Homo sapiens: one gene and its partners. The protein of the gene in region 3 interacts with the protein of the main gene of each other region in a biochemical or structural test. Each region holds a gene or a part of one and is shown on either strand. Other genes may lie near its edges.

Region 1 (6,851 bases), on a different chromosome or scaffold from region 3:
GTTTTAATATTATGAAAATAGTCTTTTAAAACCTCTTGAAATGGTCTCAGGGGTCTCCAGTGTTCCCCAAATAAGGCTTTGAGAACCATTTGTGCAAACTAATCACGATGGTTTCATTCTTTTCACCACCATTGGTTTAGGGGTGGGCACAGGTCCCTGATGTAGCCAAGGAAAGGCAAGAGGCAGTGTGCTTGATGGGATGGTGCTTTTAGAGATTTCCTCACCTCCTAAGGAGACACTAGAAGACAGGGCCATTTATCTACCTCTGGATCAAGTAAGGGGGCTGCACATAACATGCAACCAAAAGATGAAACCAACATAGAAAAATCTCAAGGAAGCAGAGCAAAGCCCAGATGTACAGTACCTGGAGTTGTCCTACCTCTGGACTTCTTGTATGTGAAATAATCTGTCAATTGTGTGCAAGGAGGCCATGGGTATGCTAAGGAAGGAGCAGATTATTTTCACTGGGGGAACTAAGGATAGCCATAAGGAAAAAGTAGCACTTGAATTTATAATGAGAATGGAAGAGGAAAAAGGCGGAGGAAAAGGTGACTATTGTACAGACTATTTCCAGGTTCTTTCACACTTTCACTTTCTCTTGTTAAATCTGCCTGTCTTCCAAGCCTCCCCTCACCACTTCCCTCCTTAAATATCTTATTCCAGAAACTCAATAAAGCCTACAAACACATCAAGCAGAGTTTTCTTATGAGGGAAAAATGAGAAAGTAATCTTTTTTTTGCTTGCCATGATCAGCACAAACAAAATTTTTAAATGGTTCTTTATTCATAAACTTGATGCAAGTTTACAAAATTTACTGTACATTGCCAAATAAATCTGCAATTAAAAATAAAATCCATTAAACAAAGCATGCCAAATGTGCAGCTATCAGTCTGCTTGCCATCAGGATATTAAAGAATTCAACAATGTATTCAAGATTTAGCCTTAGGCTTAAGGAACTTTACTGATTTAAAGAATTCTGCCTTGTCACTTGTTATCTGAGCAACTGGCAATCAGAACTTTATACAAATGTAATCAAGTGAACAAGAATACCAGAAAATCTATTTACTGCTCTCTTAACCAAAATGGAATCAAAAGAAATTAAACACACACAATGTAGAAATGACAAGTCTCTCAGATGTGGTTTACAAAGTTAAAAACTGAATCTCAAAGCTAATGCACAAGAAACACTTTTGAACTTTGTAACTTGTTTGTGCAGAAAAATGTGCTTCTGGATTTGTTAAAAGTGCTTAAGAACTAGAATTTACTTTTAAATCAAACGTGGGTGTATAAAAAAATCTATTACCAACCAAAAAGGACTGATTCAGGTAAGGCAATAAAATGGAGAGTACCTTGATTTGAGTCAGGTTCTATAAAAAAATTAACATATGTAGAGTTTCTATTAATCTTTCAATGTAAAAGCCATTGTTTTGACATGGCAAAAATTACTGTAAGAGTCTCCAAATTAAGTATCTTTTTGTACTTAACTGCACAGCTTTTGCTCAAGGAGTCTTTGTGCCAATCACTTTATAAGTTTATTAGTTTACAAACGATTGCAACATCCCGTTAATAAAATGGAAACGTAAGATGACTTAGTATTTTAAATAACTTGAAGCTCTGTACTGTGGCTCTTGTTCATAAGAAACACTGAACCAACAAGCAGCAGATTCAGCCCAGCCAAGACTCTGATGCCCCAGTGGAAATCACTACTCACAAGCCTTAATTGATACAGTTTTACACTGCTTTGCCTAAGAAGTACAATACAACTCAATTAAGAGTATTATCTTCAGGAAACAATTCATATCTTCACATAGTCATTAAAAAGTTTAACAATTTAATGAGTAGGTTTCCTATCACATTTTGGCAATATCATAAAATGGTTTTAGACATGAAAGAGCTATTATGATTTAGAAGGCCTTAAATTTCCTAAACCAATATTGAACATCGATTAAACCTGTATTGGCTGTAAATGGAACAATATATTGCAAATCCTTGTAACCCATGGGCTCAATATAGGAAAGTTACCCTAAAGCCTCAACTTCAGTAGCCTGATGTTGACTTGGCTGCTTTAAAAAGTTCACTTTTCAAGAAAAAGAGATAAGGAGTGGCCAGTATGTGTATTTATCAGGAAAAATACAGTAAAGGCCCCACTGCTCAGTCCAAGATATCTAAAATGAGCAAAATGCAAAGGCTGTAACTTATACTGGATGTCAGATGACAGATTATCCACTAAAATATCTATTAACTAACATCTTCGGTACTGCTGTAATAGGGGCACTCAAAGCTTTTGTCTGCATGTTAGAAAGATTTTCTTTAAAGCAACATTAGTCCAAACATACAACAGTCAACACATTTAGCCATCTTCCTTTGGAGGGGTGTACCAGCCTGAAATAGAATGAAAAAAAAAAAGTTAAAATAATTCTTAAATAAATTAGAAGAACTGGCATGTAATAAGGTTAGCTACAGTCTCTTTTCATAATTTTGGTGTTTAAAATCTACCGTAAAAAATATATATATATATTATATATATATTTTTTGAGACAGAGTTTCACTCTGTTACCTAGGCTGGAGTGCAATGGCGCAAACTCAGCTCACTGCAACCTCCACCTCCCAGATCAAGCAATTCTCCTGCCTCAGCCTCCCAAGTAGCTGGGATTATAGGCATGCGCCACTATGCCCCACTAATTTTTTTTTTTTTTTTTTTTTGGTATTTAGTAGAGACAGGGTTTCACCATGTTGGTCAGGCTGGTCTCCAACTAATGACCTCAGGTGATCCACCCACCTCCACCTCCCCAAAGTGCTGGGATTACAGGTGTGAGCCACTGCACCCAGTCTACTCTAAAAATTAAACTTACACTTGGATTGGGAACACTGCATTTTGCTATTTCACAACAGAAAGTTATTTTCTATGAATAAATTGTACCTGAGTTTTCAACACAAGAGCTCTGTATTAATGGCATCTCTAGCTAAAGATGACTGTGGAATATTAGACTAAAAGAATAAGTTTTATTCCACTTCAGTTCTATACTTGAAAGTAAGCCTCATGGAAAGTACTTATTTCCCCAAACAAAATCCTGGCGATTTAGAATACAAGGAACTTGGACTGTTATCGGAGCCATAACGTCATTTCACAATGACAAGGAAGCCATCGCAGCAGGTGCAATGACTAAATGACTATGCCTAAAATCAGAGTTAGTAGCAGGCCAAACTAGAATCCATCTTGAGCTATTGTACAACATGGTGACTATAGTTAACAATATACTATATTCTTGAAAAATGTTAAGAGTGGATGTAAAGTGTCTCACCATAAAAATGATAACTATGTAAGGTGATGCCTAGGTTAATTAGCTAGATTTAGTCATTCCACAGTTATGTATACTTCAAAACTTTGTACACAGTAAGTATAATATCTATTTTTTTAAAATAACAAAAAAATTTTAAGATTTAAAAAAAAACAAAACCCTAGAAGTCATCTCCCCTGCTTCTGACTCTATTACTCTTTCATCACAGCTAAGCTTACACATACCCACACACTCTCAAATACAGCATTTTCTATAAATATTTTTTGAATGCCAGTTGTAATGGTTAAGAAATAAAAACAAAGATAAGAAGAAATCTGTGTCCCAGGTTCCGCAAAAACCTAAGCTCTCTATAAAAAGGCAAATTAGACTAAGTACTGTTTAGTATGAAACTTTAGAATAGTATGAATATGCCAAGATCTATAAAGTATCAAAGTAGTACACAGGTTTCTTTGGATCTAATTTTGTGTGCTAGAAATTATTATTATGAAAACCTGGCCTTGTCCTCAAATTTTATCGTTTCTCTCTTCTGCTTGAAAATTTTGTTTTGAATACTATTTCCATAAGTAAGCAATCACTGAAAGAGTGACAAGTTTGCTTTGTCATTAAAATAAATGAGCACAAAACACAAATCTTAAGTCACAAACTGACACATTTCTAGCAAAGTAAAGAATACTTTACAGGCATGGTGGCTTGTGCCTACAGTCCAAGCTACTGAGGAGACTGAGGCAGGAGGATCACATCAGCCCAGGAACTTGAGGCTGCAGTCCACTATGATCACGCCTGTAAACAACCACTGCACTCCAGTTATAACAACAAGAACTCCATCTGTAAGGAGTTGCCTTTAACTCAGTTCCTAATATTTCAAGTAAGTAAAGTGAGTCATTCATTAATCTACTAAAAAAAAAAAAAAAGAAATCTTGATTCTGACTCTGAGATACCTAGGCCAAGTGTATAGGATACAAAAATTTTGACTGAAGTACAATGTTAAGGTTTTGTGGTGCAGTGGCTTACACCTGTAATCCCAGTACTTTGGGAGGCCGAGGCGGGCGGATCACAAAGTCAGGAGATCGAGACCATCCTGGCTAACACAGGGAAACCCGGTCTCTACTAAAAATACAAAAAAGGCACCTGTAGTCCCAGCTACTCGGGAGGCTGAGGCAGGAGAATGGCATGAACCTGGGAGGCGGAGCTGGCAGTGAGCTGAGATAGTGCCACTGCACTCCAGCTGGGGTGACAGAGCGAGACTCCGTCTCAAAAAACAAATAAAATAAAATAAAATAAAATAAATAAATAAATAAATAAAGATTTTGTATGCAGCACAAGTTTCTTTCACCATGGTAACAGCATTTTAAGAAACTAAAGCAAAAACAGAAAAATAAAATGGTAAGTATTAATACATTATCTAAAACTTCTTAAATGGCAATAAACACTTATTGAATTAAACATACCATTTTTCTCATGTATCTGTACAATGGAATTATAGGATTGTTGGGCTCTTGCTAGATTATATTGATTCTGAAAGAGAATTACACATTTTAAATCAAAAGTGTAATTAGGTGAAAATTATTACAATAAATTTATGAATGCATCACACTGTGCTTAAAAGAACATGGGAAACTGACTATCTCCATTTCAAAAACAATTTTAACTTAATAGCCTCATTTCTCAGTTTCATTATTCTCTACAATTTTATAAAAATAACAAAACCAAAATTGTACCCCAATAAAACTCAACAAGCCTCACAGTTCATTTTTATAAGTCTTCCTACCATTGGACAAGTACAAAGCTTTCTGGTTCTAGAGTCCGTCTCCATATTGCTGAATCAAGTTAAAGGATTATATCTGGATGTTAATAAAACTCAAACTGTCTTCACACAATTTCTATTTTTAAAAAAACTACAAAATATTACTTTCAGATAAGAAAATATTAAGCTTCCACAACTATACATATGAATGACATTTTAAGTTAGAAATCTAAAGAATGCCCATAATTGTCACCATGCTTACTAAAGGAGCCCTCTTTTGATAAAAATATACAATCTTTTTAAGGAGCCAAATCTAGGATTAATTTTGTCACCATAAGTACAACCAACCTATATCTTCGCTTCGAATTAATATACCAGGAGCACTCTCCATAGTGGTACCCATCTATCCACTATATTATGTGGCAGAAATTTTTGCATAATAAATTCACACAGCACAAGACTCAAAAATGTCTACATCCTAAGTGAAAACTCTCCCTCCTACTTGGTGCCCTGAACACCCAGTTTCCTCCCGTTCATCCCCCTTCCTCCACACAAGTTAACCACTATTACTAATTTCTTGTATGTCCCTCTTTAAGATTATTCATGTACAGCCCACTGTTATTAGCCACTGTCCCTGGCTTTCCTTCACTAACAGTTGCATGCTACAGACACTGGTCTGCCCCTTTTCTTGTCTAGCATATCTTGGAGAATGTTCCTTATCAGTATAGAACATACCTGTTTTAAACACTGAAATATTTCTATTATATGGATATTCAAATATTTAATCAGTCCCCTATTGGTGGACATCAGGGTTTCTCAATATTTTGCTGTTATAATGTTGCCAAGAGCAACCTTGTACGTATATCTGCTGAGTACTGGTAAAAATGTCCTAGAGTAGAGCTGCTGTGTCAAAAGATATATATGTGTAATTCTGAGATATTGCTAAATTGCCCTCTACATAACTGCACAAATGTGTCTGCCCACCAGCCATCTGTAAGAGTGCCTCGATGCAGCCTCACCAATGCAGTACTTCAAACATTTGTAGATTTCTGACAATATACTAGATGGACTCCCAGTATAGTTTTGATTTGTATTTCTATTGAGTGAGACTGAGCATGTCTCCATTATGTTCATGAGCCATTTATTTCTATTTCTGTAAACAGACTTTTTATACCCCCTTTTCCTATTTTTTTTTAACATGTTAAATTTATGTAAGGACTTTTCCTATTTTTCTACAGGGTAGTCTTTTTCAACATCTAAGAGCTCTTTAAAATAGTAAAGCCGGCCAGGCACGGTGGCTCACACCTGTAATCCCAGTACTTTTAGAGGCTGAGGCAGGTAGATCACCTGAGGCTGGGAGTTCAAGACCAGCCTGACCAACACGGAGAAACCCCGTCTCTACAAAAATACCAAATTAGCCAGGCGTGGTGGAGCACACCTGTAATCTCAGCTACTTGGGAGGCTGAGGCAGGAGAATCGCTTGAACCCAGGAGGCAGAGTTTGCAGTGAGCCCGAGATCGTACCATTGCACTCCAGCCTGGGCAACAAGAACAAAACTCCATCTCAAAATTTTTTTTTTTGAGACGGAGTCTCGCTCTGTCACCCAGGCTGGAGTGCAGTGGCACAATCTCGGCTCACTGCAAGCTCCGCCTCCCGGGTTCACGCCATTCTCCTGCTTCAGCCACCCCAGTAGCTGGGACTACAGGCGCCCGCCACCACGCCCAGCTAATTTTTTGTATTTTTAGTAGAGACAGGGTTTCACCGTGTTAGCCAGGATGGTCTCGATCTCCTGACCTTGTGATCCGCCC
Region 2 (7,719 bases), on a different chromosome or scaffold from region 3:
CCAGCCTGACCAACATGGAGGAACCCCGTCTCTATTAAAAATACAAACTTAGCCAGGGGTGGTGGCACATGCCTGTAATCCCATCTACTCAGGAGGCTGAGGCAGGAGAATCTCTTGAACCTGGGAGGCAGAGGTTGCAGTGAGCCGAGATCGCACCATTGCACTCCAGCCTGGGCAACAAGAACAAAAGTCTGTCTGAAGAAAAAACAAAACAAAATAAAACAAAAATGGGAAAGATGATGATAGGACAAGAGGGTTAAAGTTTGGTAAATGAAGGGTACGGGGAGAAATGTGTTCACAGAGTAGCCTCCAGGCTCACACTACTGTCATCAGGAGTCAACCCAAGACCATTCCAGCAGGGAGCAGACTGACTCAGGGAATCAACTGGCAATGAGACCCCAATTAGGAGGTCATGGTGGCTGGTTGGTTGGTTCAGTTGTCCAAACTATAAAATGAAGATGAGAAAGTGCCTTGAGAAGGATTTGGGAAAATAAGGCCACAAAAACCTGAGACACAGTGAAAAGACTGGTTTTAACCCCAGAGAAGGAAAATGATTGATTGTGAGAGATGGAGCAACAATAAACGAACCAAGTGGCAATGGCAACAGCTTCCATTTGTGGGGCACTTAGCTTGTACCAGACACTGTGCTAAGCGTTCCATTCATTACTTAACTCTCAAGACAGTTCTATCAGTTGGTAGGTATTATTACCCCCATGTTACAGATCAGAACTGAGCCTTAGCATAGCTAAGTAACTGCCTGAGATTACACTGTAAATAAATTGTGGAGTCAAGATTAACACCCAGATCTCTGCCTGACTCCAAGCCCAGGTTCTCACCACTGAAGAATTTTCCAGATGTCAGAATTCTCTCTCCTCCTAAATCTAAAGCTTATAATGTCTGACTCTGCCCCCAGCACCTCGGAAATACAAAAGGCAATAAAAATATTTCATTGCAGCAATTTTGCAGAAGACAGGGTAGGGACCTTTTATATCAGAGAAAATCTTTATCATCTGCATTTCAAGGACTTAGAAAATAGGAAGCAGAAACAAAAATAGCAAAAATATTGGAAGTATAGTTGATCAAGGCACAGTATATGTTTAAATTGTTTTAAAGTGCTATTTATTTTAACTTTTAGGTTCAGCATGTGCAGATTTGTTATATAGGTAAATTGTGTGTTGTGGGGGTTTGGTGTACAGATTATTTCATCATCCGTATGATGAAATCATACATAAGCATAGTACCTGATAGGTAGTTTTTCAGTCCTCACCTTCTTCTCATCCTCTACCCTCAAGTAGGCCCTGGTATCTTTTGTTCCCTTCTTTGTGTTCATGTGTACTCAATGTTTAGCTCTCACTTATAAGTGAAAACATGCATTATTTGGTTTTCTGTTCCTGTGTCAGTTCACTTAGGATAATGGCCTCCAGCTCCATCCATGTTGCTGCAAAAAACATGATTGCATTCTTTTCTATGGCTGTGTAGTATTCCATGGGAGACACTGAATAAATGCTGAACTGAGGGCAGTTACGGAGACTGAAACCTGTCTGCAATTATATGCAGGCTGTCTGCTAGACATCCAGCATAGAATAGGACCTATGTGGTTTCCTAGGCTCCCCCCATCAATCCACTCATCACCCTTCATTTGTTAAATGTCCCATCTTCTCTGACACACAGACTGTTTAGCAGTACCTGGGTAAGACACAGACTGTTTTTGCAGTACCTGGTGCCATATCTGGCAAGGAATTGGTGTTCAGGATTTATTTGCAAAAAATGAAGGCATAGCGTGCTTAAATACATGGGATGCTGTTTAAGTAGTTTTTAGGGGGAAATTTATAGCATGAAAGCCAATATTAGAAAGAAAGTCTCAAATCAGTGGCCTCCACTTCCACCTTAAGAAACTACAGAAATAAGTGCAAATTAAACCCAAACTAAGCAGAAAGAAAGAAAATAATGATCAGAGTGGAAATAGGTGAAATAGAAAACAGAAAAACAATAGAGAAAATCAAATGAAACTAGACATTAGTTATTTGAGAAAAATCAATAAAATTGATAAGCCTCTAACCAGATTGATCAGGAAAAAAAAAAAGGGCAGACACAAATTACCAATATCTGGAATGAGAGATGTGACAACACTATAGATTCTGCAGGTATTAACAAGATAATAAAGGAATGCTGTGAACAACTTTATGCCAATAAATTCAGCAACTTATATTAAATGAAAAAATTCTTTGAGACACAAACTATCAAAATTCATTCTAGAAGAAACAGAGATCCTAAATAGTCCTATATCTATTAAAGAGATATACATTATAGTTTAAAAACTTTCCACAAAGAAAACACCAGGCTCTGGTAAATTCTACTAAACATTTAAGGGTATGTTTGCAGAGTGAATGAATGAACAGTGGATCTAAGGACAACAAAAAAACTAGAAAAGAACACACAGAAAAAGGGAGAAACTCTAAAAGAACCTCAGACAGACAATTCCTGGGCCACGTTTGGCTAAGGCTTCTACCAATGGCCTAATGAAGAAAGCCTGGTAGCTAATCCCAGAACCACTGCATAGTGAGATATATGTATGGGTGTTCATGTGTACAAACTGTTAACAAACTGTCCCTATATCATTACTTCCTCTCCACTAAATTTGTTCTTGTCTTTATAAAGTTCTGAAGAAAAATCTTCTTCAGGAATTGTTAAGGAGAACCAGGTAGATCCAAATGACATGTTTATTCACCGTTCGTAGTACCCATTTAATCATTCAACAAGCATTTACTAATTACTCATTCACTATATAGCAGTCTCAGGACTCTCTTCTAAGATCTAGAGATGTAAAGTGCAATAAGACATATTTCCTACTATAACAAGCTCCCAGTCTAGAGATATTTACATATAATAAATTCAAATCATTGCCATGCAGCAGTTGGTGCTGTGATGGAGCAATGCACCAAGTGCTATGAGAACACGGAGAGTGGCTGGGTGTGGTGGCTCACACCTGTAACCCTAGCACTTTGGGAGGCTGAGATGAGAAGATCACTTAAGCTCAGGAGTTCAAGACCAGCCTGGGCAACATAGTGAGACCTTGTCTCTACAAAATATTTAAAAATTAGCCGGGTGTGGTAGCACATGCCTGTACTCCCAGCTACTTGGATGGCTGAGGTGGGAGGATCACTTAAGCCTGGGAGGTCGAGGCTGCAGTGAGCTATGATTGCACCACTGTACTCCAGCCTGGGCAACAGAGCAAGACCTCCTCTCAAAAATAAATAAATAAATAAATAAATAAATAAATAAATAAATAAATAAAAGGAGAAGTCTCTGGAGAAAGTGATGCTTGGACTGAGTTTTGAAGTAGGAGTAGAAGTCAGCTAGATGAAGAAGAGAAAAGCATTTGAACAACATTCAGATTGACCTGGAGGCAGAAAAAGCACATCCACTTTGGGGAACCACAAGCTGTGCATTAGGACTAGAGCAGAAGTGGGAGGTTGGAGAGGACACTAGAGAAGCAGGCAGGAGATTAATGATGCAAGACCAGGCTCTGGGAACGTAGGCAGGAAGTATGGGCTTTATTCTGAAAGTGATGGGGAGCCAATGAAGAAGGCAAGCCCAGGAGCAAGATGATCAGACTTGAGTTTCAGATCTTTCAGCTGGTGAATAAATTGGAGGGAGGCCAGACTTGGGGGAGGAAGATGAGTTTTGAGAAATTTCCAGAAATTCAGATGGTGAGAGTCTAAATCAAAGTGATGTCAGAGTATATACAAGAGACACAAGATTTCACCAGAGTGGGCAAGGAAGAGCAGCACCCCCATGGAATAGTGACTAGACAGGGCACGTTCTTGTTTTTTTTGTTTTTTGTTTGTTTTGTTTTGCTTTGCTTTTTGAGACAGAGTCTCCCTCTGTTGCCCAGGCTGGAGTGCAGTGGCGTGATCTCGGCTCACTACAACCTCTGCCTCCCGGGTTCAAGTGATCTTCCTGCCTCAGCCTCCCGAGTAGCTGAGACTACAGGTGCATGCCACCATGCCCACCTAATTTTTTTGTATTTTTAAGTAGAGACAGGGTTTCACCATGTTGGCCAGGATGGTCTGGATCTCTTGACCTCGTGATCCACCCGCCCTGGGCCTCCCAAACTGCTGGGATTACAGGTGTGAGCCACCAGGCCCGGCCCAGGGCACATTCTTGTTTGTGCGTGCAGTGTGACCCCCAACCTCCCACCCTTCCACAACTGGGAAGAGGAAGCACGGGCCAGGCATGGTGCTGGGTGATTTCTACATCTCACCTAACGCGCTCAGTAACTGTCTGAACACGTGGGATCGGCCTCATAGATCAGGAATCAGGGCTTCTGGAACTGACCGACTCAGCAATGAACAGGGCAGTGTTTTCTCCTTAATGCCCTAAGGATTTTTGAATCCGCTTTGCTTGCATCTCTGTGAGCCCCTAGCTAACTCCTTACTTCGCTGGTTAAATATAGCACCTCTTATCTTCTACTCACCTCATTGCCAGAAAGGTGGTACATCCTGGCTTCCTGGAGCAGCGGGAAGACCTCTGGGCACTGCCTGATGAGAGGATCTGCTTCCACCGTCTCCACAAAGTACCACGGGTCCAGAAGCGGTAAGCGCACGTTCTCGAGGACATAGGGGAGTAAGCAGAGTCGTTCTGATGGCTTGTGCCGGACCCAGCTCATCACGGTCTCAAACACCTGAGCCTCCTCGGTCACGTAAAGGTCATCACTCTTCAAGATGTGGTGCAGAGTGTCCACGGGCAGGTCAAGAAACTCCTCAGAGTTCAGAATCTGCACAAAGTTTTGAATGATGTAACTCTGAACCTGCTTCTTTAGACTGTCCAGCGAGTGTGTGTCAGCCAGCCTCAGTATTCCAACGCAGTTTTCTGGGTTCAAGGCTTCAGTGAGGAAGCTGGCACAGGCATCCACCATCCGCAGGAACTGATGAAATAGAAAGGGTGGAAAGGAGGCCAGAAAATGGTGAGTCCACAAGGAGGTTTATCAGTGAGTTATGTGTATTAGCCAAAAATTGGAAACAACCTAAATGTCCAACAGTACAGGATGAGCTAAATACATATAATTCATTCATACAGTAGACTTAAAACAATGAGATACTTACTGGACGAGCTAAATACATATAATTCATTCATACAGTCGACAAAACAATGAGATACTTACGGGAGGAGCTAAATACATATAATTCATTCATACAGTCGACTTAAAACAATGAGACACTTACGGGACTAGCTAAATACATATAATTCATTCATACAGTCGATAGCTCTGTAGATACTTAAAACACATGTTGTAGAAAATATTAAATGAAATAGAAAATGTTCATAATGTATTGAGTTTTAAAATCTGTTCATTGGATCTGATTAAGCCTCTACATTTACTCAGCAATTTACAGGAAATACAGGGAAAGAGGAACCTGCTAAAGACGTCATGGGAACATGATCAGCAAAATCCAGATTGTGGAAAACTCTACTGAACAACTTGTTCAGTTTCTTCAACAAATACATTACAAGGGGATAAAAGAGAGAGAGAAGGAGAGGGAGAACCTAAAGATAAACAGAGATTTAAGACACATTGACCAATTGCAAAGTATGGATCTTATTTGGATTCCTGATTTAAACAATATATATTTTTTAAAGTTGGAGAAATGTTTACAATGACTAATATTTGGTGCTAATGAAACAATTATGATTCATTTTAGGTGCCATAATGGTTTCATGTTTATGTTGAAGAAGAATCCTTATTTTTTAGAGCTATAAGTGAAATATTTGCAGATAAAATGAGAAAAGCACGTCACAAATCATATGTACATTGTGACCTTATTTTTATAAAGAAAACATACACAGAATAAAGTCATAGAAAGAAGATGAAAGGATGTAGGTCAAAATATTAATGGTTGTTATCTCTTTGGGTTATCAGGTATCTTAAGGCAAATTCTGCTGCAGCAGCAAACAACCCTCACGTCTCAGGGGCTTACAATAAATGTTCCTCTTACCCACTATGTGTTCTTCACGGGGCTCTTCATTCCAGGGGCCAGGAAGATGGAAAGCCCTTACCTGAGACATGCTGGTCCCATGACAGAAGGGGAAAAAGATGGCAGAACCACACAGAGGCTTTTAAAGCTTCTGCTCAGAGGGGGCGCATGCTATATCCATTTACACAAAACCGTCCAGAGTAAGTCACATGGCAAAATTTGTCATCAAGGGAACCATAGTTCTCCCACAGAAACAGGTCTCATGGGATGGACAGGGAATATACTATATAAATAATAGAAGGTATGACACTCTAAGAAGACTATGAGAATTTTTCTGTTTTTGTTTATTTATATGTTTTATTTATTTATATATCCTTTAAAATGAATACGTACCGCTTTTGTCATTAAAAAATCAATTTGTAAAATTATTGATTGGCTCTCAGGTCCCACTTTTAAGTTATCACCATCCTCATAAAAATTCAAGTCCCTTGTGCTTGTAGGGCACTTTACAGATGACAAAGCACTGTTATATCCATTATATTTTGTAATATCCATTTTACAGATGACATGTCTCAAATGCATTGGTTCATTCTTATTTGTTGTTCTCTGGAGCTTAGCTTTGAACAATTTCAACCTCCTAGCTCCCTTCCCCGTCTACTGGACTCCTTATAGGGTCAAGTTCTTGGTGCCCATGGGTTGATCGATTAATGGGGGGAGAGGAAAGGGGAGGCTGAGGGGGCAAGACCTGGTGGGGGTGGGGGAGGCCTTCTGAAGGCAGGTCCTGGTGAGAGTAGGGACAGGACAGACCTGACTGGGGAGGGTTGGCAGGAGCTGTGGGGAGTGGGGCTATCGAGCCTGAAGGTTGATAGTGGGGCAGGACTGGTTCTAAGAGTGGACCAAGGTGACCTAGGCTCTGGACTTTACTCCAGAGCATTCCAGGGAACACATCCCTGACTTTTTGGATCAACCTCTATTGCAAAATATTATCTTTCTGTGTCAGATCACATAGGATTGTCAGTTTAAAAAGCATTTTTTAGGCCGGGCGCGGTGGCTCACGCCTGTAATCCCAGCACTTTGGGAGGCCGAGGCATGCAGATCACCTGAGATCAGGAGTTGGAGACCAGCCTGACCAACATGGAGATACCCCGTCTCTACTAAAAATACAAAATTAGTCAGGCGTGGTGGCACATGCCTGTAATCCCAGCTACTCAGGAGGCTGCAGCAGGAGAATGCTTGAACCTGGGAGGCGGAGGTTGCGGTTAGCTGATATCGTGTCATTGCACTCTAGCCCGGGCAACAAGAGCAAAACTCCATCTCAAAATAAATAAATAAATAAATAAATAAAGCATTTCTCCGAGGGTCAATGCTGAAGGGGGCCAGCCCCTCTACACCTGTGGGTATTTCTCGTCAGGTGGGACGAGAGACTGAGAAAAGAAATAAGACACAGAGGCAAAGTACAGAGAAAGAACAGTGGGCCCAGGGGACCAGCGCTCAGCATACGGAGGACCCTCACCGGCACCAGTCTCTGAGTTCCCTCAGTATTTATTGATTACTATTTTCACTATCTCAATAAGAGGAATGCAGTAGGAGAGCAGGGTGATAGTGGGGAGAAGGTCAGCAAGAAAACATGTGAGCAAAGGAATCTGTGTCACAAATAAGTTCAAGGGGAGGTACTATGCCTGGACGTGCACGTAGGCCAGATTTTTGCTTCTCTCCACCCAAACATCTCAGTGGAATAAAGAAT
Region 3 (8,043 bases):
TTTTAAAATGTATAAAGTAACAATTCAGATTCACTTGGGAATAGCAGAATTTTTTTATACAGGGTTAATAATCCTTAAAATACTTTTATTTCCATGCCTTATTAGTATACATACTTAAGAAATGGTTCATTGGGCCCGAGTTTCTTGATTTTATTTAATACAATCGGATTTAATAATTTTGTGGCCAGTAAAATTATACCATTGGCATGAAGCTGTGAAAAATGAGAAATTCTACCTTTACCAGGGATATCTGTTCTACTGTTTTAAAAGTTCCTCTCTATTTTATTTTTTATTTAACATGAAGTAAAATTGAAATTTCTTCTTGGTGTATAGTTCTGTGAATTTTAACAGAAAGATTTGTGCACCACTACTGCAGTCGGTACAGAACAGTTCCTTCACTCCCAATAGCTCTCTTATGCTGTCCCTTTGTAGTCAGCTCCTTCTAGCTCTAATCCTGGCAACAGTTCTCCGTCACTATTATTTTGCCTTTTCTGGACTGTCATATAAACAGAATCTTATAGTACGTTCCCTCTTGAAATGCTTTTTCACCCAGCATAATGACTTTGAGGTTCATCCATGTCATTTTAAATTTTGAATTGGCAATATATATTCTAGCTGTTACTAGATGAGCAATTTAAAAAGGTGTAGCTATTAGTGTTGTATTTTTTCATTTACATTAATGTAATTTCCATTCACTATGTGTTGATAAAAATCTTAACCATCCCTAGAGTTTTATATTTCCAAAAATATGCCAAAAGGAAAACTATGACTGTATGATTATTTTAGCGAGAGTCATATTTGAGATGGTGTTCTGAGCCATAGTTCTCTAACATCTCCGTCTACATATAACACAAAACTTTTATAAATTATTTTAACAAAGATTAAAATATACTGCAGGGCAAATAATATTCTCTAAAACACAGGAACTGCTTTTCGTAAAGAAGACTGACTAGATGCATCTTTCTTTGAAGCTGTTCTAGTCCTCCTCTAGTTAACTTAGCTTTATGTAGAATTTCTACTGTATTTAATTTCTATTGAAGCCCTTCTGTATTTTAAAATGTAATATACTTTGTACCATTTATAAAAATTGTGTGATGAATGAATCACATGTTCGTTGTTATAAGTGTTAACCTTTTTTTGACAATTTTGTGGGAAAGACATTCTCCACTGAATTTTAACTTTCCTTGAGACTTTCAAGAATGCAGGTCTCGTTTGATGAAAAAACCGACTTCATAACCCAATGTTACTAGTTAGCGACATTGTGCTGAATTTCTCCTTGAACTTTTTAACTTTATATGTAAAATAACTTTGATCTTGGTCATTTGAAAGATCATTTCCAGGTCTAAAATTCCATGATTTTGTATTTAATTCTTCCTGAGAACAGAAGAGGGGAAAGCAAGAGAGGACGGTTTTGTGTCTTTATGAACTTTGTTACTTAAGTACTCCATTGGAGACATAATTTTTCTAATTAGTGGATCTTTTTCCACTGGAAAGTGTGATAGCTCATTGCTAATTTTTCATTCATAGTTCATTGCTTCCATTTGACCTAAGATTGGCCATTTGTTGGTGTGAAAATATTTTCTTTTCAGAAATAGTTTACTAGTGATTGAAGTACTTTTCTTATTTTTGCTTCCTATTATAAAATGGCGTGGGGGGAAGGGGGAAGGATGGAGATGGGAGGAGAGGGTAAAAGAATAGTACTCTGATTTTTTAAGAATTAGTATCTACTATCTTGGATATTTGAAAAAAAATTGGTTGAAACTATGTTTAAGTTTTATGTGTGCCTTGTAAGATTGTTGTAAAATTTTTTGTGAGCACTTTGAGATTTTTGCTGGGGGAGGGGTGTTTTGTGAAAGTGATGGTTATTATTTATATTATTTATTCCTGTTCAGTAGCACGGAATGATCTCCAAACATTCCTAGGAGAGTGTCTGTTTGCATGATATGTCTAAAAATTTTCAGGAAAATGGAATCTTTTTTTAAAGTTCAGGTATGACAAAGTATAGAATTTATTCATTTAACATATTCACATTTAGTTTATGTTTCTGATATGACAGAAAAATGAAAAGTGTTTGAGTTCAGCCTCTTCATTTACTCCATTTACATATAAAAGATCTTGAAAAGGTAGTTGTTACTTCGTTGTCAGAGAAAAACACTTGCCCTTTTTCCTGGGATGTAACTATCTTACATGTTTACATAAGAAATAATAAACTGGAGGTGGGAATGGAGAACAATGTGTTTTGTCTTCATCTTTGAATTTTAAAGGATACAATTTAAAGGATACAATTTCTCCTGACTATACATTAATCATTCATCTAGCAAATACTTCCTGAGTCCTTACAATGAAATATAAGTTAGGTATACAGACAAAAATTCCTGCTCTTGTGAAACATCTTAGTGAAGGGAGACAAACAGTAAACAAGTAAGTAAAATCCATGTATGTCAAATTTTGAGAAGGAATTTGGAGAAAAATCAGGAATAGGGAGTACCAGAGAAGGGGGATGGAATTGCAATTTTAAATATGGTGGTCAGCGCCGGGCGCCGAGGCTCAGGCCTGTAATCCTAACACTTAGGGAGGCCGAGGCTGGCAGATCACTTGAGGTCAGGAGTTTGAGACAAGCCTGGCCAACCTGATGAAAACCCTTCACTAAAAATACAAAAATTAGCCGGGCATGGTAGCGCTTGCCTGTAATCCCAGCTACTCGGGAGTCTGAGACAGGAGAATCCGTTGAACCTGGGAGGCAGAGGTTGCAGTAAGCCAATATCGCACCGCTGCAGTCAGCCTAACTGAGGGAGCAAGACCCCATCTCAAAAATAAATATGGTGACCAGGACACCTTTGAAAAATCTCGGATTATCAGAAATATATATTCTTCTGTCTAGTGAAATGTAAATATATCCAGTAGAATAGAAAAATTTGGCCTGGACTGGTGGCTCACGCCTGCAATCCCAGCACTTTTGGAGGCCGAGGCAGGCGGGTCTTCTGAGGTCAGGAGTTCAAGACCAGCCTGGCCAACATGGTGAAAACCCGTCTCTACAAAAATACAAAAAAGAAATTTAGCCGGGCATGATGACGGGTGCCTGTAATTCCAGCTACTGGGGAGGCTAAGGCAGGAGAATTCCTTGAACCCAGGAGGTGGAGGTTGCAGTGAGCTGAGATCACACCATTGCACTCCAGCCTGTGTGACAGAGTGAGACTCCGTCTCAAAAAAAAAAATATGTACATATATGTATATATAATGTGTATGTTTATATGTGTATATATACTTATATGTATCTATATATGTGTATATATATTTATATGTATGTATATATGTATATATGTGCATATATGTATATATGTGTGTATATATATATATACACAGTAGGGTGGAAAACAAATATGTACATGTAAATTACCTATCACTGTCCAGTTGAAATTACTGAAACAATTATTGGTTGTTAACAGTTCTCTAGGCCTGGCATATGTTTCATAAAGAGAAGAGAACGAAAAAGATAATGTGTGGAAGAAACGTCTTCGATGTGGCCAATGAATCTTTTTTCAAAAACACTGATTTTTGCCTGTCATTCAGACAAATATAATAGGTAATAACTATATATTTTGTTAAAACTGTAGAAGCAACCTTTCCATATTCTAATTTATCGTAGGTTTACTTCGATATTTTTGTTGTTGGGCATCTGATTTCACATTGGAAAGTGCCTTGAGTTTAATTACAAGTCATGGTCATTTTTTTTCTTCTTTTTTTTGTTGAGACGGAGTCTGGCACTGCCCCCCCGCCTGGCTGTAGTGCAATGGCGCGGTCTCGGCTCACTGCAACCTCCGTCTCCCGGGTTCAAGTGATTCTCCTGCCTCAGCCCCCCGAGTAGCTGGGATTACAGGTGCCCGCCACCACACCCGGCTAATTTTTGTATTTTTAGTAGAGCCAGGGTTTCACTATGTTGGCCAGACTGGTCTCTAACTTCTGACCTGGCGGTCCACCCGCTTCGGCCTCCCAAAGTGCTGGTATTACAGGCATCAGCCACCGCGCCCGGCGTCATGGTCATTTTCTAGCCTACATTCTTTAGTTTCTCATCAGTAACAAGGGGTACATTGTATCTGTCTTCTAGGATCACTTTGCTAATTAAATGAAATGTAAATAAAACTAAAATATTTAAAATTAAATATCACCTAACACAGGACCTGCCTGACACATACTAAGTAGTTTATAAATGTTAATTCTGATATCCCTATTCCAAGTCTGTTTCATCTATAAATTATAAACTGTAAGAATAATTCTTACCTTAGTTCGCTGTGTAAAAAGCTTCAACAAATATTTGAGATATGATGCCAGAATTTGTGCTTAAATTTTTTATTTTTGCCAGCTTTTGAGGAGCTCAGAGCTTTCTTCCCCCCCTCCCCCCCCCACTTTGGACTCTTTGTCTAGAAACAGAGTTTTCTCTTTAATAAAGAAGTGAGATGTGGAAGTGCCTGCCAAATACATGTTTTCTTCTTGTTTTTGTAATGGGGAGATTACTTGACATCTTTGTAAAGGGATTGAGGGATCCTGTCGGCATGTCATCACAGGAGTGTGAAGAAGAATGTGACACAGATGTATCAGATTCTGCTCAATGGATTCCACGCTTTTCACGAAGGGAGTTAAGACACTCGCTCAAACCAGCGTCTAGGAAGCCGGCTCAAGGCGCAGATGAATGTGCAGGGAATTTCCCATCAATCCCTTCGGCTTGCCTAGTCCTTCTCACAGTACCTCCCACAGTGCTCCGGGGCTCCCTTGTCACGTGATCGGGGTGGATCCGCTGAGGCAGAGGGAAGTTGATTCGCAGTTTGGGTGGCTGGGGCTACTACGCTTTCCTTCCAACTCCCGACTCCCGGGCTTGCGTAATCTCGCGTTAAGTGGGGAGTAACTTCTCGCGAGAGCTAGATCGGGATCCCTCCAGGTCCGCCTCCGTGGTGAGGAGGAGGAGGAGGAGGAGGCGGAGGTGGAGGGAGGAGGAGGAGGCCCCGTCGCGGCCTTCGCCGCCGCCAACGGGGCTGTCCCTGTAGCTCCCGATGGAGTTTGAGGTCGTGAAACCTCCGCCGAGCTCTGCCCCGGCGAGACGAGGCGCCTCCGTCGCCAAGCCGCGCCGTCGCGGGGCTCCCGGGAGCGGCCCTTAGCGACCCCGCCCGGGCCCCCTCAGGTAGGGCGGGGGCGGGCACGATGCGGCTCGGGCCCCAGCCCGGGTGCCTGGTCCCCGGCGGTCGGGCGGGAGACCAGTCTCAGCCCTGGGGCCTGTGCGCTGTCGCCCCTGGTGCCTCGAGGGTTGGGAACTGAGGGCCGCACCTGACACTCGGATGGAACCCGGGCCCTGCGGAGGCCCCTCTCTCTGGTAGGGCTTTTTCGATGCGGAGCGACCGGCTCAAATGGCCACCTTCCTTCGACACTGGCCGAGCGGACGCCTCTGACCCCTAACGAACCCACCCAAGCAAAGGCCCGGCTTCACTCTCCCTTTTCTACACCAGTTAGTAAGGGGGTTTGGAAGAGGTCCTCGAAACCAAGTCTTCTCCTAGCTTTTCAGCTTTCTGCCCTGGGGCTTCCCGAGACCCTAGCGTAGAGGGTGGTGGAGGCGATCTGAGTGGTAAATAGGAACCCCGGCCAAACAATGCCCTGGGAGGGCTTAACCTCCCAGGATGGGGACGGCCGGACCTGAGTGGTTGCACAGGGGTTGTGGCTAGGAGCAATGGCATGAAACACAGCCAGGAAATTCTGCTATGGCTTTCTTCTTTCCCTCTCTCATTTTTCCTTTTTGGTGTAGCCTCTTGAGGAGACTCTTCCACCATCTTAGAAGAATGGTAGAAAGCATCTTTGTTTCCCAGAGAAGCAGCTGTACTTTTTTCTATCCTTAGCTTTCAGGATGGGAGAAGATGAGGGTAGCTGTCATTTCCATCCTTCAAATCCCAAGGCAGCCGTTTAAGATACCGGCAGATAAATCCTTCACACCAAAATTGACTCAAGTAATCACTGGCATAAAGTAAATCTAATCCAGTGATTTATTTATATTTTCATAACCCTTGGGTTCCCTTTTTAATTCCTCCTCTCCCCTTACCCACGGCCTTCCTTTTTTTCATTTCTACTCTCCCCCTACCCATTGTGGGTGGGTGAGTTTGTATCCCAAATAAAGTGCTTTAAGTAATCTTTTTTCCAATTTTGTATTGGCCAAACTTTTAAGTTCCAGTAGGAACTTTTGGTTAACCTGAGAAAGCTAACGTTGCTATACCACAGTGGTATAAAGTCACTCAAAAGCAAAGAAACAAATGTTAGCCAGTGCAGCCTTTTAATGGTTAAACATACAAACTTAGTTAAAAGCTTTTTACGATATTAAGAATATTAATAGATTCTCCTTTTTAAAAAACCTTTTAGCTGTCTAAAAAGCTATACCACTGTTGTAGCTTCACATGCCTTTCTTACGTTGTTTACTTCCACGTTCAATTTTTGAAGAAATAGAGGTCGTTACATCCTGTTAAAGACTGCTTTTCAATATTGACATTTTCGTTGATTTGGAGATTAATGTTTTCAAAATTTTAGAGTTTGGAAAATTGCTAGGAGGACAGAATGTGAAACATATTCTAGTTACGTTTAGAAAAAGCAGATGTTATAATTCAAACAGGCACTTGTTCTATGAGGATTTAATTACACTCGTGTTCATTAGTGGATCCTTTGAGTTACCCCTGATCTGTTATTTCTGTTGTGGTAACCTGACATGTAAGAAGACTTACGTCCTTTGTTCATATATTTTTGTTAAATCATACTCTGCTTTTGTAATTTGCTGTCTTCCACTTTGAAAAAACCAAAAATTTGCATTTTGGCAAAGCATTCTTCTTTACACTCAGGATTTTATATTCAAAAGTTGAACTTCTACATTGTTTGCAATAGCTAAGAACGCTAAAAAAAACTTCATAACAAGGTTTTAGTAACTACTTACTGTTTAGTTTGTACCGTGTTGAAGTTTCACTTTTTAGTGATGGAAAAAGGAAGCATGGGTAAAATAAAGCTAGCTGAAAATTAAAAATAAGTTCATGTTTTGCATCCAGTCTCATGAATGTTATGATCAGCGTCTCTAATTTTACTAAAGCTTTAAGTGTAAGTGTGAGTTTTACCTCAATTTCCTGATAAAAGTTCTAAGTATTACTTTATAATTTAAATATTCTAGAGTTGCACTGTCCAGTACTAGCCAGTGGCCACATGTGACAGTTGAAGATTTGAAATGTGGCTTCTGTGAATTGAGATGTGCTTTAGGTGTAAAATACCAGATTTCAAAGACTTAGTACCAAGATTTTTTTTAATATCTCAGTAATTTTAATATTGACAACATGTTGAAATGATATTTTGTATAAACTGGGATAAATAAAATATATTACTAAAAATAATTTTAGCTATTTTAACTTTTTTTTTTTTTTTTTTGAGACAGTCTCTCTCTATCACCCATGCTGGAGTGCAGTGGCACCATTCGGGTTCACTGCAACCTCTGCTTCCAGGTTCAAGCAATTCTCATGCCTCAGACTCCTGAGTAGTTGGGATTACAGGAAGGCACCACTACACCAGGCTAATTTTTGTATTTTTAGTAGAGATGGGGTTTTGCCATGTTGACCAGGCTGGTCTGGAACTCATGACCTCAAGTGATCCACCCACCTCCCGCCTCCGCCTCCCAAAGTGCTGGGATTACAGGCGTGAGCCACCACGCCTAGCCTCTTTTAACCTTTTTTAATGTGACTACCAGAAAATTAAAAATTACTCGGATTATAATGGCTCACATATTTCTATCGGATATTACTGTTGTAGATCAGCATTACTCTTCCAAGAAATATGTTAGTGGAATAAAAGTAGATGTATAAAAACCCAAAACTTCCAGATAGATTATCCTGTTACAATCAGAATAATTAAAGAGCTAAGGACTTTGGTAATATGAAGGATGAAGTTATCCATTGGCTATGATTTGATAGGCAGAAGTAAGTTCTATCTCAAAGAAAGTATTTTTCTCGTCATCACTAATATTAGTTATACTTGTTAAAA
Region 4 (8,577 bases), on a different chromosome or scaffold from region 3:
CATCTGACAAATTTCCAAACACTGTCTTAAGGGAAAGAGGCCAAATGATGCCTTTAAGTAAATCACATTTGTATGACACAAAATTCAAAAAATATCTATACCCCAGACACCCAACTCTCTACACAGAAAGCAATCAATTTTACCAATTTCTCATGAAACCTTTTACCCATACAGGCAAATACACACATGCCCTTCTTTTTGACACAAATGGCCTCTTCCACACTATTCTGCACCTTGCTTTTTCACATTTATCTTGTTGGCTGTATTTTAACACACTCTAAGAACGGCCACTTATAATCTCTCATAACCAGAATCCAGTAAGCGTCAGCTATCTTTACAAAGGCTCTTATAAGGCCACCCCAAAAAGTCCTTAAATCAACCAGTGTTCTTAGTAAACACAAGCATACAAACACATGAAATAAACTTCGGTAAAGTGCTGATTTACCAAAAAAGTGACATGATGAAACATTTATTTGATCAGCCATTCAAAAGACTGTATTTACACCCTTAAAAAGGAAACACATGGACTATACTACAAGTCTTCAATGAGTTGAAAATAACAATACACTTATAGAACTGGGGCTACTAAAATATCAAAAAATACTGGTGAAAATAAGCTATTTATTGGTTATATTTATTCCAAGATTAAATGATGTGACCCTTTCCTAAATGTTCTTTCCAACTTATTTTCCCAGAAGTTTCCTTCCATATTTATACAGGTACTGTTCTAAACAAAACAAAACAAAACAAACAAACAACAAAAACAACAAAAAACCTGTCTGTTTGCATTTCCTGTTTTCTTCTTCTGAAACACTTTTGATGCTTATCTGAAGTAAGGCTTCAACATCCCTTACGTATAAAGAGCAGTGTTTTTTTAATATGCATTACTAGAGAGCAATACAAGTATTTCTGGTAATCTTCAACTTAGTACTAAGAATACCACGGTGAAAAGTCAGCTCATAAAAAGCAAAGAGACCACATTAATTACCAGAGCAGTAACTTACTGTTTCTGTTACCGTAAGTAACAGAAAATAAAGCATTAAAAGTCTATTAAGTTTCAGGCTTGTACAACCTTATTAAACAAGAAATGTTTTCAGTTGTTGGCAACAACAACTGCTTTCATTAGGAGTATATATGTCAACTAACCTGGAATACATTTTCATATTAAATAAGTTAAAATTGCTGTTTCATTGTATCAGTACAGACACTTATGACTCTATTTCTGCATTGTACCACAAAATACAAAGTCATCCTTCCATTCAGAGTTTTGGCATATGAACAAACATAGAGGTCAGAGTTCATACACATGCTCTGTAAAACCGACCATGACTTATATACTACTTTCAATAAGTCTGTTGTCATTTTTGAATTTTAAATAATTTTTTCTCCATGTATACTCATCACATACTTAGAATGCTGAATTTCACAAATTATTATTGACACTATTAAAGTACTAACTGTAAAAGAAAAACACAAATAGCAATGATATATTCAATAATGGTATGTGAATCTTGAAAATAATCATTTTCTGTATTACTTTTTGTTTAATTCATGTGGGGAAGACAATCTGGCATTCTTGTTGATCTTGGTATGAGAAACTGTACTAATACTTGCATAATTTTGAGTCAAATTACTAGAGCACTGTGAATATCTTACATAAATAAACGTAGTACAAATGTATCTAAATTCTGCAGGACTTAAGAGCAACGGGAGGCAACTTTTTTGAAAATCTGTTAAGTCGTGATAAATCTCAATAAGGAGATGAAACAATGTATTAATCTGGTGAAATTTCACATTTTTAATAGGTCTGCTTTTCAAAAGTAAGAATCAAGTTAACTATGAGGGACATCATAATGAAGTTTCGTGGCACAACACGAGTCACAGAGGCACTGTCTTAAGACAGTCTCTCTGATCTGTAACTTGTAAACAATATTTTGAAATAAGCTACTCATACATTCCATTATTTGTTTCCTAACTAAAAATATTTACATGTCTTTAATACACCAAACACCTTGCCTTTGCCCACTCAAAAGATTGAGATGTCAATAAAGATGAGGCCTAGGAATTTGGGGGTTAAGTGGAAAAGAGATAATTATCTTATTTGGAATTAACTTGCTAACTCAGGTGAAAATTCCCTTACCCCTGCCACCAAATAAGACAGTATTCTATTATGTCTCCCTTTGACTCCTAACACCCAACTAAGAAGGACTAACTCTGAATGTCCTTCCTTTTTAATCAATACCTAAGGACTCACTGCTCCTTCCCCAAGAAAAGAACAGTGAAGGCCTGACAGGCAATAACCCCGAATACCCTCAAAAGTGTGGGCCTTCGAGCAGCACTGCTCTTGGGATCCAGTTACCACCTTTCCCCTTCCCCCAACCCACTTCCCGGGTTTTCTCAGGCTCGGCCTGCTCCCTCCCCACCCCACAGCCACATTTCCAGCTGCGGCCACCGCCTCGGGTTCTCTTGTGAGCTTCCATCCCTCCGAGGAGTTGCCCCCTGTCCATCACCTCCCCAAACCATGTTCCACCCCAGACCACCCGCCCGCGAGACCGTCCATCCTAGCGCTCTGGGAGGGGAGGGGAAGGCGGCGGAAGGAGGAGGGGAACACTGCTGCTTCCTCACAGGCAGAAGGGCGGCCGCAAGGAGGACCACCCAGGGACTACCGGGGATATCGGGGTCGCAGCTGGGAGGACCCTCCCGCCCCAGGCAGAGGTGGGGGATATCCGGGAGTTCATTTCTGACCTCCTCGCTCTTCAGCACCTCCTTGAACTCCCGCTTGATTCGCTGCACCGCGATGTTGGCCATGTCTCCGCCCGCAGCTGATTCGTACCCGCCTCCTCCGCCACCGCTACGACCACCGCCACCGCCGCCACCTCTTCCTCCACCGCCTCCTCCCTCGGCGATTCAGACCTGAGCACACGAACACTGCCACTACCACCCCGGCCGCCGCGCTCGCCTCAGTGTGGAATCACCTCCGCGCCCGGCCACCAAAATGGCGCCGGGTCGGCGCATGCGCACGACGTTGACCCGGCCGGGCGGCGCAGCCGCTCCCGTTGGAGCCCCCATACGCCCGAGCCACGAGCTCGCGTCTCGGCTGGGGCTGCGGCCGCGTGGCTCCGCCCTGCCGGCGTCTGGGGCCGCGAGGGTGCGGCTTCCAAGCTGGCCGGCCCTAGCCGGCCCCCCCGGCCCTTCCCGGCGCCTCCGCTCCTGTTTAAACCCGGGTGCTGTGGTCTGGGCTTCCAGCGCTGGCCTCTGACCGAAGGTTCGGGCGCAACCGAACGGGTTTCCGACGCCGCACTCGGCTGGAACGCCGCCCTGACTCAGCTAGACCCGGAACCCGGAGGCTGAACGCCGTGTCTAGCGCAGGAAAACGCTCTCCCGGATCTCGGTCCGGCCCATTTTCAGTTGGTGTAGCCCCAGAAAATCTACTGCAGTCGTTTTTGTTCTGCAACATTTATAGTACCACGATTATTCCCATCATCTCAGGTAGCACAGATTATTGAATTAAGGCTGGTTATTGTTGGATCAGATTGGGTTTGAGACAGGTACTCGGTGGAGAGGCCTGAGGGTGGGTTTAGAAGCCAGATGTTGCTCTTTGACCTATTTAATACCGAGCTTGACACACACACACAATCTCTCTCTCTCTCTCTCTCTCTCTCTCACACACACACACACACACACACACACACACTCCTATGCCCATCCCTAGAGTGTAGGGTGGGCCTAAGACTGCGCTTCTAACAAGTCTCCCAGTTGCTGCTGCTGTTGGTGCTGGTTCCGGGACCACATTATGAGAACCACTGAACTGAATGAAGCATGTGAAAATTCACATATATTAAAGTGAAAATTGGAGAAATGGAAACAATTACAGTACCCTTCAGGGGACTCGGGGTGGGGGAGGGGGAGCCTTATTTCTGTAAACCTAGGCCTCAAAGGTGCCTGGTGATAGTAGGCACTCAATAAATATTGAATGAGTAAATGAGTACAGATAAGACTAAAACGTTTTTGCTGGCGCGGCGGATCGCTTGAGGTCAGGAGTCCGAGACCAGTCTGGCCAACATGGTGAAACCCCATCTCTACTAAAAATACAAAAATCAGCCAGGTGTGGTGGCAGGCACCTGTAATCCCAGCTATTCTGGAGGCTGAGGCAGGAACATCGCTTGAACCTGGGGGTCGGAGGTTGCAGTGAGCGAGATCGCGCCACTGCACTCCAGCCTGGGCCACAGTGCAAGATTCTGTCTCAAACAAAACAAAACAAAACAAAAAGTATAAAATATTTTAAGTGGAAAGTAAGTTTGAAAGTGGTTTCTGGGCCAGGTGCGGTGGCTCACGCCTGTAATCCCAGCACTTTGGGAGGCGGAGGCGGGCGGATCACGAGGTCAGGAGATCAAGACCATCCTGGCTAACACGGTGAAACCCCGTCTCTACTAAAAAAATATAAAAAAAATAGCTGGGCGTGGTGGCGGGCGCCTGTAGTCCCAGCTACTCGGGAGGCTGAGGCAGGAGAATGGCGTGAACCCGGGAGGCGGAGCTTGCAGCGAGCGAGATTGCGCCACTGCACTCCAGTCTGGGCAACGGAGCGAGACTCCGTCTCAAAAAAAAACAAAAAACAAACAAACAAAAGAAAGTGGTTTCTGGTCGGGCGCGGTGGCTCACGCCTGTAATCCCAGCACTTTGGAAGGCCGAGGGGGAGCAGATCACTTGAGCCCAGGAGTTTGAGACCAACCTGGGCCCTATGGTGAAATCCTGTCTCTAAAGATAATAATTTTTAAAAAAGAAAGTGGTTTCTAAGGTGCATAGTAATAATGGTTTGGTACTGAGAAGCATTTTGAATAGAACATTTTGGAATAAGTAATAAGGGTGTCATTTCAGAAGTTTATACTTCATGCACTTTCTTCACCTAGCCAATCAGTAAAATATCTATTATAAAAATATCACAAATACATGGTTTTACCAAAAGTAATTAAAATTGTGGTGGCAAACATGGAAATAGCCAATGGAGGCGAATCAGTGGGGGCACAAGGCAAAAGAGAATTTCTTAAACTCCCGCCCCAGGAACCAAGAGGAGATTTTAAAATTCCAGTTCTCTCCCATGGCAGTTCTCTTGCCAGCTTTTATTTCCTCATCTACGAAACGAGAAAACTGGATTAGATTATCTCTCTCAAGTTTTAAGAGTTCAGAATTCGAAAATATCATCTCAAAACATTTCCCCTAAGTGGGCTGACATAAATTATATAAACCCTTCTAGCAGAGCCCCCTAGTGGTCCTAAGAGGACTCAACCATATACGTAGGTCATGGTACAAGGAATTATTGGTGTAATGTAAATCACGCAATGCTATATGTATTTGTGCCAGTAGACTTAAAAAAATTATTTTGAAGAGTGCAAAAACTTTTTGAGCACTTTACATTATCACTGTCCAATCCTAATCTTGGAATGTGAAGAAACTTGGAATACTCAAAGGGGGACCAGTTAGAAGGGTCCAGGCCGGGCGCCCTGATTTATGTCTGTAATCCCAGCACTTTGGGAGGCCGAGGCGGGCGGATCGCTTGAGCTCAGGAATTCGAGACCAGCCTGGGCAACATGGTGAGACCCCCGACTCTACTAAAATACAAAAACTTAGCTGGGTGTGGTGGCGTGCGCTGTAGTCCCAACTACTTGGGAGGTTGAGGCAGGAGAATCGCTTGAACCCAGGAGGCGGAGGTTGCAGTGAGCGGAGATCACACCACTGCACTCCAGCCTGGGTGACAGAGGGTGACTCTGTCTCAAGAGAAAAACCACAAAAAGACAATTCCCCCTCTCCAAAAAAAGGTCTGGTAATTTCTTTCTTTTTTTTTTTTTTTTTTTTTTTTGTCTTTTTTCCCCCCTTTCTGTGGAGAACGGGGTCTCGCTATACTGCCCAGGCAGGTCTCAAACTCCTGGGCTCAAGGTATCCTCGCGCCTCTGCCTCCCTGAGAGCTGGGATTAAAGGTGTGAGCCACTGCACCGGACAAGGGTCTGGTAATTTCTTCAAGGGAGAGGGTTTGGTAATCTTTAAATGCACATAATCACTGCTCCTGCAATTTCACTTCTAGGAATTCATTCTGTAGTCCTTCTAATGAGACAACTGCATATTAACTGATATGAAACAATCTCCAGGATATATTTTAAGTGAATAAGAAGCGCCATGCGAGGCCAGTCACGGTGGCTCACACCTGTAATCCCAGCACTTTGGGAAGCTGAGGTGGGCCGATCACTTGAGGTCAGGAGTTGGAGACCAGCCTGGCCAACATGGTGAAACCCTGTCTCTATTAAAAATACAAAACATTAACTGGGCATAGTGGCGGGCACCTGTAATCTCAGCTACTCGGGAGACTGAGGCAGGAGAATTGCTCAAACCCAGGAGGCGAAGTTTGCAGTGACCCAAGATTGCACCACTGCACTCCAGCCTGGGCAACAGAGCCAGACTCTGTCTCAAAAAAAAAAAAAAAAAAAAAAAGAAGCACCACGCTAAATGCAATGTGGTATCCTGAATTGGATCCTAGAACCAAAAGGGCATACCTAGTGAAATATAAATAAATTCTGTAATTTAGTTAATGGTATTATAACAATGCTAATTTCTCAGTTTTGACATAGCCATATGGTAATGTATGATGTTAACATTAGTGGAAGTTGAGTAAAGAGTATACAAGAATCTCTGTACAGGGCCGGGTGCGATTGCTCAAACCTGTAATCCCAGCACTTTGGGAGGCCAAGGCAGGCAGCTCACCTGAGGTCAGGAGTTCGAGACCAGCCTGACCAACATGGAGAACCCCGTCTCTACCAAAAATACAAAATTAGCCAGGCATGGTGGTGCATGCCTGTAATCCCGCCTACTCAGGAGGCTGAGGCAGAAGAATAGCTTGAACCCAGGAGGCGAAGGTTGCAGTGAGCCAAGATCACACCATTGCACTCCAGCCTGGGCAACAAGAGCGAAACTCCGTCTCAAAAAAAAAAAAAAAAAAAAGAATCTCTGTACTATCTTTTCAACTTTCTTGTAATCTAAAATTATTCCAAGGCCAATTGTGATGGCTCATGCTTGTGATCTCAGCAACTTGGGTGGTGGAGGTGGGAGGATCACCTGAGGCCAGGAATTCTAGACCAGCCTTGGCATCACAGAAAGACCCCATCTCTAGCCAAGTGCGGTGGCTCATGCCTGTAATCCCAGCACTTTGGGACGCCAAGGTGGGCAGATTACGGGGTCAGGAGTTTGAGACCAGCCTGGCCAGCATGGTGAAACCACGTCTCCACTAAAAATACAAAAAATTAGCCAGGTGTGGTGGTGCACGCCTGTAATCCCAGCTACTCGGGAGGCTGAGGCAGGAGAATCACTTGAACTCAGGAGGCAGAGTCTGCAGTGAGCCGAGATCGTGCCACTGCACTCCAGCCTGGGCAATAGAGACTCAGTCTCAAAAAAAAAAAAAGACCCCCATCTCTCTCTTTTTTTTTTTTTTTTTTGAGACGGCATCTCGCTCTGTCGCCCAGGCTGGAGTGCAATGGCGTGATCACGGCTCACTGCAACCTCTGCCTCCCGGGTTCAGGAGATTCTCCCACCTCAGCCTCCCGAGTAGCTGGGACTACAGGTGCCCGCCACCACGCCCAGCTAATTTTTTAAAATATATTTTTAATAGAGACGAGGTTTCACCATGTTGGCCAGGATGGTCTTGGTCTCTTGACCTTGTGATCCGCATGCCTTGGCCTCCCAAAGTGCTAGGATTACAGGCGTGAGCCACCACACCCAGCCAAAAAGACCCCCATCTCTACAAAAAAAGTAAAAAACTAGCCAGGGGTGGTGGCATGTGCCTGTAGTCTTAGCTGCTTGGGAGGCTGAAGTGGGAGGCAGGTTTGAGCCCAGGAGTTTCAGGCTGCAGTGAGCTATAGTTGCACCACTGCATTCTAACCTGGTGTCAAAGTGAGATCCTGCCTCTAAAAAAGATAAATAAAATAAAATTATAAAATAAAATTATTCCAAAAGAAAAAGTTTACTTATTAAAGGGTATGTCACAGCCCATATGTATATAGTATGCCACCATATTTGTAAGGAGAGAAAGGAATATGCCTGTATATGTAATGTTTGTGAACCATAAAATATCACTGGAAAAATGTGGAAGAAACTGATAACAGTGGTTACCTCTCAGGAAGGAACTTAAGTACTTTGGGGGAAGCAAAGTGGGAGAATTTTCACCATGTCTCCTGTTGTATTTTTTATCCATCCAAAAACAAATTTTTAAAAATGTGTTTCCAATAATGGAGAACATAGCTCTTCCGTAATATGATCTAATTCTGATTAACTTCGTTAACTAAATAATTAAATAAGTATTTATTGAATGCCTACTATGGGCTAGGCCCTGGAGGCATATCAGTGAACAAGAGATTAAAATCCCTGCAATCGTGAAATTTACATTTTAGCAGGGATGAAGAAAATTAACCTCAAACTATAGTCTACAGACACCTGGGCAATCCCTGAGATGTTTTCAGGCAGTCAATCTACCATCCTTAAAGTATGGCTTTTTTTTTTTTTTTTTTTTGAGATGGAGCCTTGCTGTATCGCCCAGGC

What was found.
Region 1: the proteins of RC3H2 (region 3) and UBE2Q2 form a complex in vitro, tested with the Homo sapiens proteins (one study listed by BioGRID).
Region 2: the proteins of RC3H2 (region 3) and KLHL6 form a complex in vitro, tested with the Homo sapiens proteins (2 studies listed by BioGRID, with this or other methods).
Region 4: the proteins of RC3H2 (region 3) and UBE2K form a complex in vitro, tested with the Homo sapiens proteins (one study listed by BioGRID).

What each region holds. Positions count from the first base shown.
Region 1 is NC_000015.10:75,894,958-75,901,808, reverse strand, and holds the end of UBE2Q2 (ubiquitin-conjugating enzyme E2 Q2), read right to left. Parts: intron 4,815-6,851; coding exon 4,748-4,814; intron 2,383-4,747; coding exon 2,351-2,382; coding exon of another isoform or gene 2,322-2,350; 3' UTR 731-2,321; downstream 1-730.
Region 2 is NC_000003.12:183,503,582-183,511,300, forward strand, and holds part of KLHL6 (kelch-like protein 6), read right to left. Parts: intron 4,928-7,719; coding exon 4,478-4,927; intron 1-4,477. UniProt on the Homo sapiens protein: Involved in B-lymphocyte antigen receptor signaling and germinal center formation.
Region 3 is NC_000009.12:122,902,240-122,910,282, reverse strand, and holds the start of RC3H2 (roquin-2), read left to right. Parts: upstream 1-4,923; 5' UTR 4,924-5,173; intron 5,174-8,043. UniProt on the Homo sapiens protein: Post-transcriptional repressor of mRNAs containing a conserved stem loop motif, called constitutive decay element (CDE), which is often located in the 3'-UTR, as in HMGXB3, ICOS, IER3, NFKBID, NFKBIZ, PPP1R10, TNF and in many more mRNAs.
Region 4 is NC_000004.12:39,692,559-39,701,135, reverse strand, and holds the start of UBE2K (ubiquitin-conjugating enzyme E2 K), read right to left. Parts: upstream 3,001-8,577; 5' UTR 2,809-3,000; coding exon 2,746-2,808; intron 1-2,745. UniProt on the Homo sapiens protein: Accepts ubiquitin from the E1 complex and catalyzes its covalent attachment to other proteins. In vitro, in the presence or in the absence of BRCA1-BARD1 E3 ubiquitin-protein ligase complex, catalyzes the synthesis of 'Lys-48'-linked polyubiquitin chains.